Homo sapiens: one gene and its partners. The protein of the gene in region 2 interacts with the protein of the main gene of each other region in a biochemical or structural test. Each region holds a gene or a part of one and is shown on either strand. Other genes may lie near its edges. The genes, in order: ITGB5, EPS8, ITGB7 and ITSN2.

Evidence for each region.
Region 1: the proteins of EPS8 (region 2) and ITGB5 form a complex in vitro, tested with the Homo sapiens proteins (one study listed by IntAct).
Region 3: the proteins of EPS8 (region 2) and ITGB7 form a complex in vitro, tested with the Homo sapiens proteins (one study listed by IntAct).
Region 4: the proteins of EPS8 (region 2) and ITSN2 form a complex in vitro, tested with the Homo sapiens proteins (one study listed by BioGRID).

What each region holds. Positions count from the first base shown.
Region 1 is NC_000003.12:124,761,447-124,765,405, forward strand, and holds the end of ITGB5 (integrin beta-5 isoform a precursor), read right to left. Parts: intron 3,112-3,959; coding exon 2,945-3,111; intron 2,273-2,944; coding exon 2,177-2,272; 3' UTR 502-2,176; downstream 1-501.
Region 2 is NC_000012.12:15,619,607-15,625,402, forward strand, and holds the end of EPS8 (epidermal growth factor receptor kinase substrate 8), read right to left. Parts: intron 4,802-5,796; coding exon 4,621-4,801; intron 3,682-4,620; coding exon 3,552-3,681; intron 1,825-3,551; coding exon 1,711-1,824; 3' UTR 528-1,710; downstream 1-527. UniProt on the Homo sapiens protein: Signaling adapter that controls various cellular protrusions by regulating actin cytoskeleton dynamics and architecture. Depending on its association with other signal transducers, can regulate different processes.
Region 3 is NC_000012.12:53,204,211-53,211,103, forward strand, and holds the start of ITGB7 (integrin beta-7 isoform a precursor), read right to left. Parts: upstream 3,042-6,893; 5' UTR 2,992-3,041; intron 2,595-2,991; exon of another isoform or gene 2,464-2,594; intron 1-2,463. UniProt on the Homo sapiens protein: Integrin ITGA4/ITGB7 (alpha-4/beta-7) (Peyer patches-specific homing receptor LPAM-1) is an adhesion molecule that mediates lymphocyte migration and homing to gut-associated lymphoid tissue (GALT).
Region 4 is NC_000002.12:24,294,507-24,301,547, forward strand, and holds part of ITSN2 (intersectin-2), read right to left. Parts: intron 6,734-7,041; coding exon 6,648-6,733; intron 5,666-6,647; coding exon 5,403-5,665; intron 4,309-5,402; coding exon 4,159-4,308; intron 1,299-4,158; coding exon 1,158-1,298; intron 1-1,157.

The DNA of each region.
Region 1 (3,959 bases), on a different chromosome or scaffold from region 2:
TGGTTCCGTAACATCCCTCGGCGTCAGACGAAAACACCCTCACTTTCCACGTCAAGTGGAACTAGAACAAATCCTCCTTTGCTATCTGTGGCTCAAGAATGTTGTGCCCAGGCCAGGCGCGGTGGCTGACGTATGTAATCCTAACACTTTGGGAGGCCAAGGTGGGAGGATCGCTTGAGCTTGGGAGTTGTAGACCAACCAGCCTGGGCAACATAGTGAGACCTTGTCTCTGCAAAAAATAAAGTATTATCTGGGTGTGATGGTGCACACCTGTAGTCCCAGCTACTTAGGAGGCTGAGTTGGGAGGATCACGGGAGACCAGGAGATTGAGGCTGCAGAGAACTGAGATTGCACCTCTGCACTCCAGCCTGAGTGACCCAGTGAGATCCTCTCTTAAAAAAAAAAAAAAAGAATGTCGTGCCCTTAGAGAAAATGAGATTCTGAGCCAGTTAATGATTTGTCTCCAGGAAACCCAAAATTAAACATGAGAGAAACCCAAAGTTTCTTCCAAAATTACATTTATTTTTCTCAATTCAGAAAAGTCTCAACACCACAATTTATCTGTTTAATGTTTTCATTTACATTTGGCTTTATCCCAAAAAGGGTTTAACAGTGTCACCAAGTTACCAGGTCTCTGTTTCATCATATTTACACAAGATGAAGGAAACTCAATCTGTTCGTATTTGCCCCAGGTAATAGGTTCTATGTAGTGACAGGCATTTCACTATTTGACTTAGTGTTTGCCAAAATGAAGTAAGGGGAATTGGGTCCAGAGCTGAGGACAGATCCATTTGGAATGAAAGCATAATAACCTTGAAGTTATTCCAGTGACAAAAAATGATCAGTGAAAGATTTTCTAAGAGCAAGCAGGAATGAGGAGGCTGGCCCTCTGGCCAGCATGAGATGGGGTCTTAGGAACAGTTTGTCATTCAGTAACCTCCTAACAAACACTCGGGCAAGCCACTTCCCCTCTCTGAGAATCAGTTTCCTCTTCTGTACATAAGGGGAGAGGGTCAGTCAACCATCTTAGATATGGGAACTTAAGGGGACTTCATGGCCCTGCGGGAAAAAAGCTCAAATGTGTTTTTTTGCATTGGGCCTGCATGGGACGTAAGTGTTTCGGGAGTGAGGGGAGGCCTTGGAAGGGAACTGCTATTGCTAATGATGATTAAGAGATGACTTCGTGTGGGAACCACCACTCAACCCTTGCTTGTCTGTACAATCTATTTCCAGCCTCAGCCCCTCAGAACAAGGGGTGGTTTTTATGGTGTCTAGCCTGGAACTCTCTGTCAGTAAAAGCTGGAAGGGGCCAAAGGTATCTGCTCAGTGTTCCCCCTTGCACAGCCCTCACTGCCCCGAGCACCTCATGCTTACTTGACAAGCTGCAGTCTGGAGTATCAGACCAGCCTGTGTCCCATCCCTGAGGAAGTACACGGCCGCTTCAATCCCCACTGGGGGCACCATTTTAAGTCCGCTCAGAAAGAAAGAAACACACAGAGAGTATCAGACAAACACAAATTCTTTTGGTTTTAATCTTTACTTCCAATCCCAAACAATCTTGTTTCTTTTCATTATAAAAGTACTAAACAAACACGGACAGGAGAGGAAACTGACATTTGCAAACGATGTACCTTCAACAGGCATCTCAACAGCCCCATCACCAACACCTGTGTGCAAGGCATAGCCATCACGCAGAAAAGTCTCAGGACTCAGAACTACACCATAAATGCAGGATCTTTTTATTTCATATAAAAATGATCAATGTGAAAAAAGCCAAACTGTATGCTGGTTTTACAGACTCCGACCCTTCCTGACAGTCTTCTTGTCTGGCCAGGCTGGGGGCCCAGCATTCCTGGAAGGGAGAGACAGCCCAGCATCTCAGTATTTCATTGGGACAACAAGCTGGATGTGGCAGGGAAAGCTGAGAGCGCCAAGGTCCCCTTGCTTTATCCCAAGCTCGGAGGGACGCAGCCTGGCATGGCTCTGGCCTAGCAGCCAGGTGACATGGCCAGGCACCTTCCTGTACAGGCACTGTGGGCTCCTGGCCCAGGCTCACTAGAAGGTCTTCTCTGTGGTGCCTACCTAGGGAGCTGTGATCAAGCCGAGCAGCCGTGCAAGGCGTTTCAGTCTGACCTTTTCATCAGATCCCCGCTCCAGCCCCTCGGAGAAGGAAACATCAGTCCACAGTGCCATTGTAGGATTTGTTGAACTTGTTGAAGGTGAAGTCCACAGTGTGCGTGGAGATAGGCTTTCTGTATAATGGATTTGAAGCCTACAGAACACGGCGGGGAAGAGGATGAGGACACATGTTAGCTCACACACTCAAACCGACAGACGCAGGCCCTAGGATCCCTTCCCAGGTCAGCCCCCTGCGACAGCAGCAGGCAGAGCACTCAGGAGGAGACGGCCGTGGGCTCTAGGACAGCTCTGTGTTCCCCAGGAAAGCCATCGCCTTCTCTAAGCTTTCACTATCCACCTCTGGAAGGAGGAGTTGGGTCAGAAGGTCTCTGAAGTCCCTTCCAGCTTTAACAGAAACCAAGCCCAGGTTCAGCAGAAACTGACTGCGCTCAGTCCTCTGGGCATTTGCAGTCTGCCTGGGGTGACCAGACTGCAGGTGTGAGTGTTGTAATGGACCATAAGAATCTGAGCTTTCCTGTTGGTCTGTGCTCTCTCTGAGACTGGTCAGACTCTTCCTGAGGCACGCCCAGCGCCTCTGCCCCCATGACCTTCCTGACCTGGGTCTGGAACAGGGATCTGTGCAGCTCACTCTGCACTGGGGCTGTGCAATTCTCTCTCTCCAGAACTGGGCACAGCGTTTCTGGTGTTGATTCTTTTGTTTTTAATGCCAAAGACATTAGTGAGCCTCTATTGCTAACATACCGCTGAACTCAACCACGCCTCTGAGCTTGAAGTCTCCTCTGCTTCCCATTTCCCACGTGCTTACCATTTCATAGCGGGCCCTGGATCGCTCGCTCTGAAACTTTGCAAACTCCCTCCGGTCGTGGATGGTGACAAGCAGCTTCCAGATAGCCAGGAGTGCAAGCCCAACAAGGAGGATGCTACCGACCACAGCCAGGAGGATGGTCATGGCGTTGGGGGTGTTTCCACACTCTGGGGGGACCAGAAGCATGGTAAGCAAAGCCACTAGCATCACCATGCCCCTCTCACGCAACTGCAGGCATTTCTGAGATGAAAGTTGCACCCCTTCCAAAGGCCTTCTCCTCGGCTCTCCCTTAGATCCTCAGGAGGGTTTCCCCAATGTACAAAAAATGAAAGATTCAAAAGGGACAGTGACTGTTCTAAAGTCACACAGCAAGTGTGGCAAAGTCTAGATGAGGGCCCTGGGGCAGGGCTGCCTTTCCCCTCATGGGCAGCACCCACATCCCGCCTGGCCCAGTCTCCATTGCAGGATGCTGGACCCGCTCAGCTTTCGTGTACATGGTTTCAGGAGCAGACTGGGCAGGCAGGAGGTACCATGAAGCCACATGAAGCCACTTCCACAAGGTCTGGGCTGGGGGCCAACATTTGTAAGCCTTTAGCGTGGTGTCCCTTGGAGTAAATGTGCTTGTTTTCAAAGAACCTCAGACACAGCATTGGAAACAAAGCCTCATTCTTACAGGCGTGCATCCTAGGCTGGTACCACACTTCTCTCTGCCTCTGGCCTCAGGAAGGCACATTATGTGGTTGGGCTCAATTTGGAAAAATAGTTTGCAGTGCTGTCGATTGAAGAGAGCAAATCTTTTTCTGCTCCACCCCTGCCTCCCTACCCCCAAGAAGAATGTAAGGGGTGATATCAGATATTCCAGTTACTCCAAGGCAAAGGCTATTGGTCCCTGGGTCCAAGCAGAGGCAGAATGTTGGTATTTGGATTAAAGCTTGACCTCTTCAGTGGTGCTGGGAGCTGAGCATGGGAGCAGCAGGAATGTTGAACCCAGTGCTCCGTTGTCCTTGGAATCCAT
Region 2 (5,796 bases):
TGGATCTTATTTTCTTTCATCTTATCCCTTTCAATAAAGGCTAAATTATACATATGTATCAGTCCTTATGAAATGTAAAAGATCTAAACTAATTCACCTTTATCATGCTCATGTTTGTTCCACTTTATCCAAAGGGCAGTGTTATAGAGAGACCGAGAGATAGAAGATGAGAAACTCCCACATCCTTCAGGATCTGGGGAAAATTAGCTTCTAGGAAGCTAAATCTCCTCATCTGTAATAATTCATATAGAGTTGTTGTAAATATCCAGGAAAGCATTTATATGGAAGCATTTAGCAATCGTAAGCGCAGTGTAAATTAGTTCCATTACCATTACCAAATATGACTAGATGGTAGAAGGAAAAGATGATGAAACAAGAGGCGAAAAGAAGAAAAACAACCGAAAAAAGTATTCTAGAGTTTCTCTACCCACTCAGAAATAGAATAATATATAGTTTTTTTAAAATGTGGATCTCTACTTTTTCCCATTGCATTCAACTCGAATCCTCAGCCGATCTAGCACAGATCCTTTTTGCTAATGAGACAGAAACCATTTATTAACAGACAGCAAATACTGTTTATTGCAGACTTTCCAGCTGACTCATGTGAAAAAGGCACTATGAAAATTAATGAATCTAGATAATTTCTCTAAATGATTTATGTTAAAATATACAACATTCTTACATAACATCTGTTTTATATATGTGAAATAATATAACATTTAATGACAAAAATTGTGTTTCCAAAAATAACATTTGTTGAAGGTTAGGTATCTTTCTTTTCTCTATGTGGAATCTTTCACAGGATTAAAATATGTGTAAATTAAGTGCTTCTTATTACCAGAAATACTTGACACAGATAAACACATAAAATGGCCCCACTTCCTTTTAACTACTCATATCAACATTCAGAACTGAGGCTTTCATTAAGCAAAATACTGTAATGCACACCAATGCAGACTACTTCCTTTGCTAGATTTTGAGAAGACATGACCTCTTTCGCATTTGTGCTTTCTCATATATAAGAACACAGTATACATAATAAGCAGAATATAAACTAAATCAAAATACAAGCTATACAAGGAGTTGCAATCAACAGAGCCATGACAAACTCTCTTGAGAATGCTCCATAGATTTATATTTGCATGTCCAAGGTATGGCTGTACTTTACAGTTCATTCAAATGTTTTAATTTTTTTTTAAACTGTTGGCATTAAGAACTTTAAATAAATCTAAATATTCTTCCATTGAGTATGTCAGAGAAGAGACTTAAGTAAGCAGAGGCTAGCCTACAGTGAGCTATGCCCTGAATGACAGACACCATATTCACAGGCAAAATCGAAACTGCTTAGATTTTGAATCATGGACAACATTGTTGCTTTGTTGCAGTGAATAACTCCACCACTATCAAAACAATTCCTGTTTATACCCTGGGATGGGGATAAAATAATTAGTCTAATTAAGGAAACTTCACCTTGGTAAAGTAAGAAAAATATTTTCCAAGGTCAAAAAATTCAGTTTAAATTTTTTCAGTTTTAATAAAAATAATGGGCCTAGAAGCAAATCCTGTGCTCACTCAGGTTTGCATGGGTTTTTTTTTATGGTGATAAATTACATCAAGAAAAATGAATCTGACATTCCCTTCAAGGCTTCTTAAAACAAAGCATGTTGGAATAATGCCAAAAACAATGGAGTTTAAATACAAACAAACAAATTAGTGACTGCTTCCTTCATCAAAAGATTCCACTCCTGAATCACTAGCGGCAGCACTGATTTTTTCCTGTCGTCTTCTCATAATTTCTTGTAACTCGGAGCTGCCACTGCTATCCTGAAAGATAAACAGTTCAGACAAGATAGTTACTGACTTGTGCAGGCTGCAGGTCATATCATGAAATGGCTCAGGATAAAATTCTACTGTGGTTTTCTTCTAGTATCTCTTTAGGAAAGCTAACAGCTCTACTTTTTAAGTGAAGCTTCTGCACTTCACTAATATATCACATTAATAATTTTTCATTTTGTAAAGTCTGTTAAGGCAATTCACTCACCAGGCCTTTCATTTGAACATGATAAAGATAAATCAATAATGTATGTATAGTACTCTAGGTTTGCTGAGAGAAAGAGGAAATGTGTACAATAAGCATAATAACATGGTAAATTATCAAAGGACTCTTTTGGGCTCAAACAAGATACTGATCTGCCTTTAGAAGATTTTAACTCAGGCCAGAGTGGGCTCAGAATTCACCCAGTTTCCCCTCCATATAGTTCTGACCCTCCGACCATGCTGGCTTTTCTCCTTTCCCATCAACAGAAGTCTCTGGCAACACAGGCAAATAATCTAAAAGATTAACTAGATCCAAGGAAAGGGTGAGGTGGTAGAAGGTGGCTGAGGAACATGAAGAACCTCAGGTAGTCAGCCTCTGCCTCAGTTCCCATGCAGAGAATAGGAAGAGAACAAGAAGCAAGAGACCATCCTGAAGTGGGTGGTGACAGCAAATGACAATAATGATAGGCAGGTGTGGGATGAAGGAATTCAGAATTTTAGGAATATGGCATTTTCTAACATACCTTGAAGAAGTAATTATATACTCTCAACAAAATTAAATATAGTGGTAATAAAACTGCTTGAGAAAAATATATAATCCTTATTAATATTCAACATATGGAAAGCAATCAAATCAAACTTTAATATGGAGCCTTCAAGATCAATGTTGTAGGGAAAACCTCCAAGGGAAATATGGTTTCTCTTGATTCAGAATGGCTACGGGGTGATACGCATGAAGTGATTTTACCCTGAATTATTTAACTGTTGAATTTATAGAATATACCTGCTAGAGATGATTATGGATCAATTTCATGCCAAAGCCTACATTCTTTCATTTGAGTCCAAGTATAATTTTCATGAAACTATTAAGAGCTGTGAGATGTAACAGTTGGAAACTACTACCCGTATATAGCACATTTTAAGTCTAAAATAGGATATTGGAAGCTTAAGTATAAAGCAATCTAGAAAACATGACTCTCCTGCTTTCATACAGACCATTGTGATTAAATACTTTTCCAGGCTCTCTATTTTCAGTGATCTCTACCTAATGTATCTTTCCCGATTATTGAGATGTATTACTAGACCTAACACACACAGCCAGGGTTTTACAATCTTATAACCTATACGTTATTAGAATCTCCAAAAAAAAAAAAATATTAAGAATAGGCAAGGATTCTGGCCTCTTAAGGCTCTTACTCACTCAGAAGCTAATTTCCATTGTTATGTCAAAATTAAATTTCCTATAGAATTAGTCAATACATATAAAATGAGAACATTATGCTTTTTGTCAAGTTTCCAAAAGTATGTGCTCAAGCTTCACATCATATGAGCATTTATAACAAATTAACCTTCTGGAAACTGTCATTGATGATCTCAGTGACAAATTTACAAAAGCAGAGTTAAATTTAATTCAGCTCTGTTAAGAAAGGGAAATTGGCCAATATGGACATAAATAGTTGTTTCCAGAGCTTTCAATTTGCAGAAAAACACCACCTTAGGTTGACAAGTCATACCTCCAATGCAGCTTTTTGTACAGTGATTTGGCTATAGACTCTCGCCCCTTCAGGGCAGACTGTCCTCAGTTCATCCTTATTGAGAGAGAAAAGTTGTGCACCATTTAATACTCCAAGACTATTGACAGTCCTAAAAAAAAAAAAAGGAAAAAGAAACTGAGCATTAAAAATATTGCCTACAAACAAAGGAGAAAATTATCTGTTCCTGCTAGTAACTTCTCTTTTCTAAGCGTTCCATACCCTGGAACCCTTATTAAATGCCACTACAGTCTTTATAGTTAGGGCAATGACAAGTTTCTTTCATGATGATGACCCTGAGGCTATACAGATTATTAATTACAAAGTATCAAAAATGAGCCAATTCGGTTTAGGGTCATTGTTTAATACCAATTCTTGGGATTTGGTGTTTTATAGAAGGAATAGATAACTTTCTAGTAACCTGGCAATTGACTAACCATTGTATCTCATTTTTCAATCATGCTGGGTAGGTGAGTTTATAATATGTCAAGGTCCCTTGAATATGTATTATTCTAATAGTTCATTGTGCCAAATACATATGAAATGTTTATAGACTTTTAGATAGATAAATAGAACCTTTACTATGGGTTTATTAAAGGAAAAGTTCTATTAAGATTATAATTGATGCTAGGTAACACTATTTTTTATTTGCCAGAGACACTATATCCTGCAGCAGGAGGAAAGCTTATGCTCTATGTCCTATGTGGTCTAGGAAGTTCAGCTAAGACCATGGTCCTACCTAGGTTACATCACAGTAATCTGATGGAGAAAAGAAGCTACTGGGCCTCAAAGCTGCCAATAGTTTGCTTAAAGAACTAATAATGAACAGATACTACCAATTCGAAAATGGGGTGGCATCAGAATAATTATTTATGCTTATTTTAGTTCTTTTTCAGCTATGAACAGCTATAGTGAGTTCTTGAGTATGGCACAAAGTATGCAGTCTGTGCCCTTATGTTTTATAACAGTTATCTGTGACATCTAACTAAGCAAATTGAAAACAATGCATGTTGTACACACAGAATTGCAAAGTATTCACAGAGAGACTCACACAGGGTTGAATCCCTTTGACTGTAACCACGTCTTCACATCCTCTGGTGTGGAGTCGTAAGTGATATTGATAACTGGCACGTTCTGCCGTGGCACATGGAATTTCTTCTGAGCGGCACTCCGACCAATGGTCAGTCTGTGGATGAGTTCATCTTGCACTTCCTCCATCTGAGATTTCCTTCCTAGACACCAACAGGGAGTAGGTTCTTTTTGAAAATCCCTAATATTACATCACCCTCTCTAGAACCCCAATCTCTATAATCCTTGACCCCAGTAGGACCTACAGTCTAGTGTTCCTACCATCTTTCCTCACTTTTATCCTCGCCTGGTATAAATGCCATGATCAATTATTAAAATAACTCCCTGGCTCTTCTCTAGTCTCTTCATTGTACTCCTTTGGCAAAACCCCAATCCTGGTTAAACCTAACTTTCTGCGTATTCTGTGCCTGCACCTGCACAGCTGAATATAACACAACAATGCTGAATGATCTCATGTTAAATTCATGATTATGAACCTTAACTTGGCTGTTAATGCTTCCTGACAATTATACTACATTTCCTTAGACTGGTGGCTCTCAACTGGGGACAGTTTTGGCCCCAGAGGACATTTGGGAATATCTGGAGACACTTTTGGTCGTCACAATTGAGGGAGAAAAAGGGGAAAGGCTGCTGCTGTCACACAGTGGGTAGAAGCCTGGGATGCACACAACATTCTATAATGTCAGCCTCTCCTACAGCAGAGAATAACCCAGCCTCAAAGGCCAAGAAGTCCTGCCTAAGGTCATGTAACTGCCCACTGTCTTAGACAAGTATTGAATATATTCTACTTTCTCTCTACAAACTTCTAACCCTATTCCCCAATCCTCACCTTGAGCTGATCTCATTTCCTAATTTATGAATAAAATAGTTAGAAGAAAACCTCCGTAAGTTCCTCTAGTAGTTCTTCCTAACAGCACTTTCCCCATATGTTCTGCCTGCCTTCCTATTATGTTATATAAGAGCTGTTTCCCTGCTCCCAAGGCTAACTATCCATGTATGCACTAGGCCTCAAGTTCTCTGCCTATTCAAATACTGAGTCATTTCTCCCTTATTTATCCTGTTATTAATTTTCCTTCTTCACTGAATCAGTTCATCAGCCTGCAAACATGCTATTATTTTATGATTTCTGTTACCTTTA
Region 3 (6,893 bases), about 38 Mb from region 2:
ATCTACTAAAAATACAAAAATTATCCAGGCATGGTGGTGGTCTCCTGTAACCCTAGCTACTTGGGAGGCTGAGGCAGGAAAATCGCTTGAACCCAGGAGGCGGAGGTTGCAGTGAGCCGAGATTGTGCCATTTCATTCCAGCCTGGGCAACAAGAGCAAAACTCGGTCTCAAAAAAAAAAAAAAAATGAAGTACTGATACATACATGCTACAACATGGATGAACCTTGAAAACATGCTCAGTGAACAAAACCATTCATGAAAGGTCACATATTGTATGATTCCACATATGGAACATATCCAAACTAGAAAAATCCACAGAGACAGAAGGTAGATTAGTGGTTACCAGAGCTTGGGAGAAGGGGAAGTGGGGAATGACTGCTTAATGGGCAGTTTCATTTTAGGGTGATGAATAAGTTCTGGAATTAGTGAATGTACTTAATGCCACTGAATTGTACACTTAAAAGGGGTAAAAATGATAAATGTTTGTGTATCTTACCATTTTAAAAATCAAAAAGTTAAATAAGATGGTGAGAAATCTCCTACTCCATATGCCATACCCAGTTCCCACACCTACCCTAAATAAATATCATTTACTACTATCTTTGTTTCTTTTTTCTTTACCTTTTTTTTTTTTTTTTTTTTGGCAGAGTCCCACTCTGTCGACCAGGCTGGAATGCAGTGGCGTGATGTACAACCTCTGCCTCCTGGGTTCAAGTGAGTCGTGTGCCTCATCCTCCTGAGTAGCTGGGATTACAGGTGTGAGCCACCACACCCAGCTAATTTTTGTGTTTTTAGTAGAGACAGAGTTTCACTATGTTGGCCAGGCTGGTCTCGAACCCCTGACTTCAAGTGATCCACCCACCTCGGCCTCCCAAAGTGCTGGAATTACAGGCATGAGCCACTGTGCCTGGCCTTAAATTGTTTCTAGTTCCCTATGACAAATAATGCTGAAATGAAAAGTAATGTATGTATTTATTTATTTATTCATTTGAGAGATAGGGTCTTGCTCTGTCACCCGGCTGTAGTGTACTGGTGCAATCATGGCTCACTGCTGCCTTGACCTTGCCGGCTCAATTGATCCTTCCACCTCAGCCTCCCGAGTAGCTGGTACTACAGGCGCATGCTACCATGTCTGGCTAATTATTTTTGTATTATTTTGCAGAGATGGGGCTTCCCCATGTTGCCCAGGCTGGTCTAGAACTCCTGAGCTCAAGCGACCCACCTGCCTCGGCCTCCCAAATTGCCGTGATTACAGGCGTGAGCCATCACCCCCAGCCAAATGTCATGTATTTATCATTTCACACGTCTGCAACTGAATCTGTAGGATAAATCCCTAGCAGAGGACGTGCAGGATAACTAGATAGGTATCATTTGTAATACTGGTGTGTATTTCATCTACATTCTCATGCTAAGAAATATATATATATAGGTGGGTATTGCCAACATAAACTCTTCAGGACTTGTACTGGTCCACATTCCCATCAGCAATGTATGAGAAAGGCCAACTAACTCCTTGTCATAAACCATTTGCATCTTCTTCAGCCTGGGCCCAGAGTCAGGTCCAGATACTCTGCACAGAGTGTGGGAAAGGGGTGGGGTGTTGAGTCCTTGAATGTCCTGGTCCTGCTCCCCACCACCTGTGACCTCAGGCGCCATATATAACGGAGCCTCCACCCCTCGGGGAGAGGCCAGTCCCAGCTCAGCCTCAGCGTAACCTCAGCCCTGCTTGCTCTGCATGCCTGTGGTCAGGGAGGCTGGAGATGCTGCAACCCAAAGCCGGGTTTTGACTCATCTCTCACAAGTGGAGCCCCGGCTGCCGCATAGGTTTTTCAGAGACCTTAGGCCCACTCATCTCCCCTTAAAGGGGGCCCTGGGACTTCCTGGACAGCCCTTTCCTACCTTTCTTTCCAATTATCCTCTCTTCTCCCCTCCTTGAGAATACATGTTCTGCCACCTATTTCTCTGTCTGCTTCTCTGTCTCTCTCTGGCTCCTTTCATTTCAAAACTTCTATTGCATCTCTCTGCTGCTTTTCTCTGCTCCACTTCTTCATAGGGCTATTTTACTTCCTTTTCCCCTCTGTTCCTAACTATAGAATGGCTGAATCTACTACTCCATCCCACTCTTTTTACAAATGGAAACCTAAATTCCATGAGGCCAGGGTCACCCAGTGAACTAGGGGCAGGGCAGGACAGGGCAGGGCCAGGCCTCTGCTGTGCTTTCTCCTTTCCTCCCTCCAACCCAGGCACTATCTCCATCAAAAGTTGTGTTCTCTCCCCACTAGCCCTGGTGGGCTCTGCCTAATCCCATTTCTCTTTCCTTAGGGGTATTCTGCAGTCTTCCCTTCTCTCTCTGGGACCAAGTGGTTATTTCCATTTTTCTGGACTCCATTCTGACTCCAGTACACACCCTGTGACCCCCCTCAGCAGCTGAGAAACAGAGCCTCTTCCAAACCCATCCCTACCTTCCAAATCAAGCAGAACCCTCTGCTGCCCACTGGGAGTCACAAGGAGGGGACGGAACTGAGCTGCTGGGCCTCAGTGTCCCAGGACAGTGGAGTCTGTGACCAAGGTGCCGATTAGGAAGAAGTCTGAGCTGAAGGCAGAGCATTAGGGATAGCAGCTGGGGGTGATGTTGGAAGAACCCTCCCTCAGTATAATCGGTATACCTGCCCTACTTCGGTATAGTCCTTGGCACATGGCAGGCACTCAGATGACAGCACTCATATACATCCCTGCCTCCAGACCCACTCATGGGAAACTGATGCAGGAGAGATTGGGCTTTTGGAGAGGTGGAGGTGGGGGTACTGTGAAACTGGAGGAGGGAACCAGGTCAGGGGATCTTAGGAATGCAGAAAGGAGTTCAGAGCCTTTCTCAAGTCTGGACAGGACCCTCGGTATCCAGGTCAGAGCCCTCTTCCCAAGAGGTTGGGACCAGGTGGGCCAGAGCTTGTAAGGAGAGGAGGCAGAAGGGCTGGTGCCCTGGTACTCACAGGTGCGTGCAGAGCAGTCCTTCCTCTGGCGGCAGCAGCAGCCTTTGTGTACTGATCTGGGAGACGGCAGAGGAGGAAGTGACACTCCCCAGGGTGGGGAAGATTTGGGGTTGGTGGGGGTGACTGATCTAGAAGGTGGTGCAGATAGGGGTGGGGCTGAGCCAAGGGAGTGGACAATACAGAGATCTGGAAGAAAGAAGCCCATTTATTGAACCCCTGTCATGTGTTGAACGTAACATATTACAATTAACCCTCACAACAATCTCATAAGATAGGGGTTAATATTCCCCCAAGCCCCAATTTTACAGATGCAGAGATTGAGGCTTGGAAGCAGGAAATAAAGAATTTTGCCCAAGGTCCCACAGCTAGTAAGTAGCTAGTCTAGGATTTAAAAAAAAAAAAGAAAAAAGATTTTTATTTTAAATTTTTATTATTTTATTTTTTTTATTTTAATTTAATTTAACTTTTGAGACAGGGTCTTGCTCTGTTTCCCAGGCACAATCTCAGCTCACTGTCCCATGGCACAATCTCAGCTCACTGCAAACTCCGCCTCCCAGGTTCAAGCGATTCTCCTGCCTCAGCCTCCCGAATAGCTGGGATTACAGGGGTGCACTACCATGCCCAGCAACGTTTTATATTCTTAATAGAGACGGGGTTTCACCATGTTGGCCAGGCTGGTCTCAAACTCTTGACCTCAATTGATCTGCCCACCTCGGCCTCCCAAAGTGCTGGGATTACAGGTGTGGGCCACCATGCCCAGCCTGTTTTTTATTTTTGAGACAGGGTCTTGCTGTGTTGCCCAGGCTGGTCTGTAACTCCTGGACTCAAGCAATCCTCCCACTTTGGCCTCCTGAGTAGCTGGGATTACAGGCACACTCGGCTGGTCTGGGATTTAAATCCAGGTCTGCCTGCCTCCAAAATTCATGATCTCTCCATTTACTTATATAGGAAGGAACATGATAGGAGGGAATAGGGGCAGTAAGTACTGTAGAGAGGCCAGAAATTACAGACTTGTTCATTTTGAAAACCCAGGATACATTATATAAGTGTGCTTGACTACATAGGCTCTGGAGCCAAGTTGCTAGAGTTCAAATCCTGGCTCTACTACTTACTAGTAGTAAGGAGCTTAGCTGAGTTACTTAAACCTGCCTGCAGCTGTTTTCTCATCTGTCCAGCAAGACTCACAGGATTGTCGTGAGAATTAAAAGAGATAATTCATATCAATTGCCTACAAGACTACCTGGCACATACTAAGTAAGGGCTTGATAAGAGAATTAGTAGGGATGAGAAGTAGCAGAGGTGAGAAGTGAAGAGGCTTTGAGAAATTCAAGGTCCACACAACTGGAAACTTGGAAGAGAGAGGCATAGGGCCAGGCTCAGAGCATGTGATTGGGGAACCAGGAGCCAACACAGTAGTGGATCCTGGGAAAGGGGTGGAGGAGGTGAACTGGGAGAAGCAGAGAGTGCAGGAACAACAGCTGAAGCCAAGGCAAGGATGAAGCCCGTAGGGAGAGCAGGAAAATATTAATGGGATTTGCTCCTGGCCCATACAGATCACTAAGAGCTTTGAGAGGGAACTAGACATGAGGTCTGTGTTCACAGGTCGATCTCCCCTACCAGAAGGAGCACTCCTTGTAGGCAGGGACTGGCTCTACAAGGCTTCCCTGCTGGAGCCACCACACCTAGCCAAGTGCCCATCTTATAGTAGGTGCTCAATAAATGTCAGATGGATTGCAGAGGTGTAGCTGCTAGGAGGGGACAATTGGAGAGGAGGGGCTCTTTCTCTGGGTGGGCTTGGCTGGCCTCAGGCTATGGGATAGCCAGGACCTATACCCTTCCCCCACAACCAGGGGTTACCACGGCAATGACCCTCCTTCCCCACAGGCCCTGTGGTTTCCTCTAGAGCTTCTTTCACTTTCTTCTTCTGCTTTCCGCCCTCCACTCTTCTCTCCCCTACTCCCACATCCTCAACTTTTTTGTCATAACCACAGGTCACCAATGAAGAGAGCCAGGAACAAGGTAGGCAAGGCACTGTCCCAGGGAAGGTAGGACACGGAGGAGGGGCTTGAGGGGAGTCACAGAGGGCGAAGGGAAGAGTACAGGGTGCAGCAGTAGAGGCCAAAGGCACTGCAAAGGCGTGTTGCAGAGGGAAGGCGTGTGGGAGCAAGGACAGATATTCGGAAAGAAGGTAACAGTGCAGGTGGCAGTGAGTGGAGGTCATGGGGTGAAGAGTGGGAACAGAGAGGGTGGGGGGAGTAAGGTATAAGGTGATAGCAGGGTGGTTGGGGACAGAAGGCCAGAGGGCTCCCTGGGTGAGGGGCTGGTGTAAAACAGTAACACTGTAGCTTAGATGCGGGCTTCTTCTCTTCTGGGGCCAGGAGCCCTCATGAGAACTAAATGAAACTTCAGGGCAGGCATGGTGGCTCACGCCTGTAATCTCAACACTTTGGGAGGCTGAAGTAGGTGGATCACTTGAGGTCAGGAGTTCGAGACCAGCCTAGCCAACATGGTGAAACCCCATCTCTACTAAAAATACAAAAATTAGCTGAGCATGGTGGTGCGCCCCTGTAATCCCAGCTACTTGGGAGGCTGAGGCAGGAGAATCGCTTGAACCCGGGAGGCAGAAGTTGCAGTGAGCCAAGATCACACCACTGCACTCCAGACTGGGCAACAGGAGTGAAATTCCGTCTCAAGAAAAAAAATGAAAAACAAAAAGATAAATAAAACTTCAATGGACTCCTTCCCCAGAGAAAAGCAGATATGCACATATGCATAACTGGAGGTGGAGACAGGCTTACAGACCTCTGAAGTCCATTCATGCCCTCCCAGAGATCCACAGGATCCAACATAAGAACCCACACCAAGCTAGACGCAGTGGCTCACGCCTGTAATCCCAGCACTTTGGGAGTCCAAGGCAGGCGGATCACCTGAGGTCAGGAGTTCGAGACCAGCCTGGCCAACATGGCGAAACCTGTCTCTACTAAAAATAAAAAAAATTAGCTGGGCGTGGTGGTGCACCCCTGTAATTGCAGCTACTCGGGAGGCTGAGGCAAGAGAATTGCTTGAACCTGGGAAGTGGAGGTTACAGTAAGCCGAGATCACACCACTGCACTCCAGCATGGGCGACAGAGTGAGATTCTGAACCCACACCTGGTGGTTGTGGGAAACCCGGTCACTCAGGGTGAGTCCCCATGGGCTCCCTTTCCCCCATCCTGTCCCCACCACAATCCAGGCACACTTCATCCTGTTTTCTTCTACCAAGAAAGCTGCAAAGTCCAATCAATTACAAGCTTTCCCTCCTCACTCAGCTCCCTCACCAGGTCAGCTGGTCATTTCCCTACCACCTCCTAAAGGGAGCCACATCTCATGAGTTTCCATCACTTTATTTTGCAAAAATAGAAAACTCAGCAATATGCGATACAGCGGGGTAGAGGGGAGATGTAAACAGAGGGGAGGGGACAGCACCCTGACCCCCCAAGAGAACACAGGGAGCCAATGGGAATCTTATTTGGCAGCTAAATACAAACTGGGGATTGGAGGAAGAAAGGAGGGGTCACAGGGGCCCTGGGCTCCCCCACCCAAGACCCCTGGAGGAAGGGGTCAATTCCACGGTGTAAACAAAAGCTAATAAATAAATAGAGGCTTCCTCTGGGTCAGGGCGGGATCAGCTAAGCAGCATCCCCCCTCCCTGGGCCAAGCTGCTCTGGGGAGTAAAGGGTGGAAGGCACTAGGGAGAGAGGGATCCCCTGGCCCCTCTGTAGTGTAGGAGGGTCCCTGCCCCAATGGCTGAGATGGAGGGCAGGAGGAGCCCAAGGCACATGACAGGGCTGGGGGAGGGACTTATAACGGAGGGCACAGGGTGAACTCTGCACCCGAGCCAAGAGGTGCAGAATGGACCTGCA
Region 4 (7,041 bases), on a different chromosome or scaffold from region 2:
AAAAAGACTGATTAATTGCCAGTCCATGCAGTAAGAGAAATTGGGTAAGAGAACTCTAGAGATGCAGAATGCTTCCACAGCCCCATTCTGCAAATAGTAATTATTGAACCAGACCCTACTGCACAAGTAAGGAAGAGAATTACCAGGACCCCAAGGGACATATTCAAGTTCTCATCATAATTTTAAAAAGAATAACTTTAAGTCAAAATTTCCTAAAATTAGTAGCAATAACCTTATTTTAATGTATGATATGGTCTGAATGTTGGTATGTCCCCAACATTCATATGTTGGAACCTAACTCCCAATGCAGTACTATTAAGAAGTAGGGCTTTAGGAGGCTCCACACTCATGAATGAGATGACTGTCCTTATAAAGGAAGTTGAAGGGACTGCCTTACCCTTTCTGCATGTGAAGACGCAGCAAGAAGGCACTAGTTTTAAAGGAGACAGCAAGCCCTCATCGGACACTGAATCTGCTAACACCTTGATCTTGGACTTCTCAGTCTCTAGAACTATGAGTAATAAATTTCTGTTGTTTATAAATTACCCAGTCTAAGGTCGTTTGTTATAGCAAGTAATGAATTAAGAATGCATAAACATTGTTAAAGAGTTAAAACTCAAAGTGATAAATGTCCACTTACGTATATATATTAAGCAAAACTTAACCAGACGTCTAGCAGAGTTTTAGTAGGTCTATGGACTTCCTGATATTGTATACAGGATTGCGTGTATTTAGATCACAAGCCTATCAAAGACTCAAGGTTATTGACCCCCAAAACAAAACTCTATTAGAAGAACTGTTTCGTTTTGTTTTGTTTTGAGATGGAATCTCGCTCTATCATCCATGCTGGAGTACAGTGGTGCGATCTGGGTTCACTGCAACCTCTGCCTCCCGGAATCAAGCGATTCTCCTGCCTCAGCCTCCCGAGTTGCTGGGATTACAGGCATGCGCCACCATACCCAGCTAATTTTTTTGTATTTTTAGTAGAGACGGGGTTTTGCCCTGCTGACTGGGCTGGTCTCGAACTCCTGACCTCAGGGGATCCACCCGCCTCAGCCTCCCAAAGTGCTAGCATTACAGCCGTGAGCCACCGTGCCCAGCCCAGAAGAACTATTAATTGTACATGTTTAAGAACAATTTAGCAGTGAAGGACTTACCTGAAGTTCCTGTTGAAGTTGCTTGATTTCCATAATTTCCAAGTCACACTGCTTATCCAGAACTTCCAGCTCAGTCTTTTGAGTTTGCTTTTTGAGTCGGACATCCTGAAGTCTGCCTGAGATCTGCTGATGTTTGCCATTCTATAGGAAGATCATATAAATATATAGTAACATAAAATGCTAATAGAAAATGTTTCTACAAGGAGAATAATATTTTTAGTTAAATTTTAAAATCTCAGTTATCATTCATATTCATCCTGAAACAAATGCCTAAAACCAAGTGGAATGTGTTTCAGAGTTGTGTCTGTTAACTCGAGTTATTAGTGGGAAACACATCATTCTCAGAGTGCAAGAGCCCATATGTTAGTATGGGAAAGCAGAAACATAACACATTGAATTTTTTTCTGAATTCAGCATTAGACAATATTAATTAACAATATTAATATCAGAGACACTCTCAAAGAATGATGAAGAGGAATAAATGTTTGCATGTGATGCTCGGCATTACCTTCTCTGAACTTCTATTTCTACCCTAAATATGGCCATCTAATTTCCTCTAATTAAAACAGTGCCCAGGAGGAACGTTTTGGCAACAGTTCTGTTCTATACTAATATTCTTCTCCTTTTTTCCTCTTCTTCTGTGAAGAAATCAAACAAATAGCAGAGATTCTCAATGGGACCTAAGAAGAAGGGTGACATGGGGGGTTATGGGCTGAACTGTGTCCCCCAAAATTCATATGTTAAAGTCCCAAGCCCCAGTACCTCAGAATGTGACAATATTTGGAGACAGGGCCTTTAAAGAGGTGATTAAGGTTAAACAAAGTCATACAGGTGGACCCTAATCCAATCTAACTGGTGTCCTTATTAGAGGTGGAAATCTGAACACAAAAGGCACCAGAGATAAAATACACTCAGAGAAAACACCATATAAGGACACAATGAAAGATGGCCACCTGCAAGCCACCAAAAGAGGCCTCACAAGAAACTAAGCCTAACTAACCTTGGTCTTAGATCTTAGGAGCTGTGAAAAAATTAATTTCTGTTGTTTAAGCCACCTAGCCTATCGTATTTTGTTACAGCAGCCCTACCAAACTAATACAGTGGAGTGAGGGGAAATGACATCCTGGGTTAAAACTTACTGATGATGAAAAGTTTTACTGAAGACTGTTTCATATTTGAAATACATACACTGAAAGGAACATGTGTATCTCTGCTGGAGCTCACATTCTTATCCTCAACATGGGATACGTATAGGCTCTGGACCTTTCCAGACTCTGCACATTCACCTGTGTTACTGTGCTTCATGTGTTGCACCAGTTCTTGAGGGAAAAACAATCAATCTTAAGGTCTCTTCCCATTATATATAGTCAAGATGATATATATATATAAAAATAGTGCAAGAGAGTTAAAAGTTTTTTACAACTGTTTTGTAGTACTCTGGCATGATTAATACTTGTGGTATGTATGTCTATCCATTTGAAGGAATAAAATAATATATTTCTGACTAAAGATATTGTGATGATTAAAAAAATAATTTTTAATGTAATTCAAGTCATCAACCAAATAAAATGTTAGACTATGATCACACAAGATCTAAATCTGGCTCTACTACATGACTAGGTATGCATTTTTGTAAAACCCTACTATATGATCAGGGTAGGCTCATGGGATTCTAGGGTTGTGGCAGAATAGTGCCAGATCTTTTATACCTTCTCACCACACATTTCAAACAAAGTCTTTTAACAACTTGACCCTCTAACATCTGATTGGTAAAAACTGCTTAGTGGCCAGTATTAGCTAAGAACTACAATCCTGCAGAACTGGAACTGTAAGAGATCATTTAGGTCAGCAGTTTCAAATCAGTTGTCTTTTTAATAGTAGAATCTTTTTTTTTCCAAGCAAATCTTGAGTGAAACCCCAAGAAACATAAAGCACATAAATGTCAAGCTTCTCTGTTGTGAAGCGTGGGAAGAATTAGGGAGAGAAAATCACTGTTCTGCTGCCCGAGCTTCCCCTCTCCTGCCTCTGCTTAGTCCTCCTCAGACCATCTTACAGAGACCAATCTGAAAACTGAAAATCACTCAACTAACACAACTCTTTATTTCAGACAAGGGAAAAGTGAGGCACAGAGAAGGGAAATGTCTTGCCCAGGAGTACATGGTTCATCAGTGTCTGAACTGATGCTACAACATAATTCTCAGCATTTTGAGTCATTATCCTTTTCTCAGTAAACCATATTGTACAGTCTGTTTATATGAAAATGTGACTAATGACATTAAGACATAACTAATTCACGAGAGATTTTAAAACACAATTACATTTTTCTTTTTTTTTTTTTTGAGATGGCGTCTCACTCTGTTACCTAGGCTGGAGTGCAGTGGTGCGATCTTGGCTCACTGCAACCTCCACCTCCTGGGTTCAAGTGATTCTCCTGCCTCAGCCTCCCAAGTAGCTAGGATTACAGGCACCCACCACCACCCACCACGGCCAGCTAATTTTTGTTTGTTTGTTTGAGACGGAGTCTCACTCTGTTGCCCAGGCTCGAGTGCAGTGGCGCGATCTCAGCTCACTGCAACCTCCGCCTCCCAGGTTCAAGCAATTCTTCTGCCTCAGTGTCCCAAGTAGCTGGGACTACAGGCGCACACCACCACTCCTGGCTAATTTTTGTATTTTTAGTAGAGATGGGGTTTCACTATATTGGCCAGGCTGGTCTTGAACTCCTGACCTCGTGATCCACCCACCTCAGCCTCCCAAAGCGTTGGGATTACAGTGAGCCACCATGCCCAGCCCACAGCTGGCTAATTTTTTTTTTTAGTAGAGATGGGGTTTCACCATGTTGGCCAGGCTGGTTTCAAACTCCTGCCCCAGTTGATCTGCCTGCCTTGGCCTCCCAAAGTGCTAGGATAACAGGTGTGAGCCACCACGCCTGGCCCACAATTACATTTTTCAACAGGTAGCTCCATCATCATTCAGATAAATTTCACTTAAACTTCAGCCATACCAGTGCTTCCAACTCAAGATGAAGATTCTTCTTTTTAGAGTTTAACCTGACAATTTCTTCTTGTTCTCTATTCTTTTGATTGAGAAGCTCCTGTCGCCGAATTCTCTCCCATTCTAAGCGACGTTGTCGTTCAAGTTCCTGTTTTGCTGCCTGAAAAAAAAAAGGAATTATACTTAATTTTTAAATCAAAAATTTTGCACGATTCAAAAACTGGGAAGACAACAATAAAAGTCAGGCAGAGTTTAGCACTTAGTGGCTTTAGTGCCTAAGGGTAGCTAGGCAAATCTAGTTTTATTAATGGGCTTAAAGACTTCCAAGAAAGTGGCTTCATCTATCATATTTTCTCATTTCTTCACGAGATCTTTTTTTTTTTTTTTTTTTTCCAGACAGCATCTTGCTCTGTCACCCAGGCTGGAGTGCAGTGGCACCACCTTGGCTCACTGCAACCTCCACCACCTGGGCTCAAGCGATTCTCCTGCCTCAGCCCCACCAAGTAGCTGGGATTACAGGCACACACCACCACACACCTGGCTAATTTTTGTACTTTTTGTAGAGAGAGGGTTTCACCATGTTGCCCAGGTTGGAAGACCATCCTTTTGTTACAGTCATTTTTCTCTTAATAAGTTACAGAATGACTTCATAAATATAAATGTTAACAGGAATAATTTTCCCTCTATTCTGGTATCTGGGGGAAAAATTCTATTTATATTATTTCAGTGTGCAATAACTTCCTGTGCTCCATCCCTGGCCCTTTAAAACACAGCCAGTCCTCCTAAGGACCCTTCTTTCCCAGCAACACTATCCCAAAGGCCTGTGCAAGCCCATCCTCTTGATTCCTCTCTAGAGAGACTTTCAATGCCCAGCTCTCATCTTTCTGTCTCTCCAATTCCTTGGACTCTTAATCTGGATCTTAAACTTGCTTTCGTCTAATGACTTGCTCAGTTGCCTAACTAACCTTAGCTCCTCACTCAACTTAGCTCTGCAGTCGATCCTCCTTTGATTGAGATATCACCTGCAGAGGATGCTTTCTCTACCACGTACCAGTTCTGAAAACTCCTTATAAGCAAGAAGCCTCTTTCCCTCCTCAAGGGAAGGAATGATCAGATTTGTATAGGGTAAGAATGAAATGATGCAGAGCAAAAGGCAAAACAAAAATTCAAAAATAAGCATTTTTTAATCAAATGAAATATAGTCACTTATTAAATGTAATGATTTTCTTAAGAAGTAAAAAACTTAAAAATAACCTCTCGTCTTTCTATGTCTTTTCTCCTTTCTTCCTCTCGTTGTCTCTCCAATTCCCGTTGCTTCTCTAAGCGTTTTTCTAATTCAAGTTGTTTCTTCCATTCTTGTTCTTGTAATTCTCTCTGTTTTCGTTCCCACTCTTCCTTTTCTTTCTGGGCTTTACGTTCTGCCTCCCTTTGTTGCTGCTCCATCAAGGCTTGGCGTCGCTTTTCCAGCTCCATGTTCCCTCGCTCATAGTTGGCTTTCCGTTTGTCCTCAAAAGTAACTGAACAAGGTATGCCTATCAGCATCCACACACATTAACAGCCTACAGAACCTGTAATCTAGTTTCTATATACTTATGCCTTGTGATCATTTGAGTGCTATCAGTATTTGAATACTTCTCCTAAGGATAATTTTAACTCAAATCTAAGTGGAAAAATATCTACTTTCTTCAAGGATATTCAATTTTAGAAAAACAAATTTTTAAGTTTGAATCCAATCAAGAGAGAAATAATTTTTATAAACTTGCCAATAAAAATACTTTTTCGGTTGGGTGTGGTGGCTCATGCCTGTAATCCCAACACTTTGGGAGGCCAAGGTGGGCGGATCACCTGAGGTCAGCAGTTCAAGACCGGCCTGGCCAACACGGTGAAACCCCATCTCTACTAAAAATACCAAAAATTAGCCAGGCATAGTGGCAGGCACCTGTAATCCCAGCTACTCAGGAGGCTGAGACAGGAGAATCGCTTGAACCCAGGAGGCGGAAGTTGCAGTGAGCCGGGATTGTGCTGTTGCACTCCAGCCTGGGCAACAAGGAAAAAAAAAAAAAACTTTTTCAACTTTTTTCTCTTCTTCAAGGACAATCAAAGCTGTGTGGTTATACATTTGTTTTGATGTCATTAACATCCTAATATATTAAAACAGCTACAAATGTATTCTTTCAACCAATATTTAAATGTTTTTAAAGGTAAAGATTTCATTACAAAGTTTCCTCTAATAACTCAGCCTAAATTAGGAGAAATACTTTAACTCAGATGTCTATAATCCTGTCAAATACATCTAACTGTCTCTTCTTCCTTCACACTCTTCTCATTTTGACCATCTTAATTTTATCAATACCAAAATACATCCCATCTATCAAATAGTTTTTTCTCATATAGCACATCAAATATTAAAAATATAAAAATTCTAAATATTCCATTACATTTAAAGGTAGAATTTAAAAGAACTCAGTATAAATATACAACTTTGACACTCAGTGATACCTGGTAATTTCTTCTGAGGCTCCTCTTCTTGCATTTTCTGATATGAAGGCAGAGTTCCATTAATGGAATCAATTTGCTTTCCTCCTCTAAAAAAATCAAACAACAAAGTTAGCATCATGTAGTCTGGACATTTTCAGACTAGATTACACAGACTACCAGTGATTATGGCAATTTGATATTGGGAATACAGTATTAAAGATATTTAAAACAGTTTGGTATGTCGTTACAAAATACAGTAGTATATGGATATTCAAGACAGAGAAATCTGGATTCAAATCACAGTTCAGCTAATTTTGGTTCTTGGGCAAGTTTTTCTTTATCTCTTTAGTCATTAGCCTCCTTATGTATAACATAATGAAAACACATCCACTTCTTTTTTTTTTTTTTTTTGAGG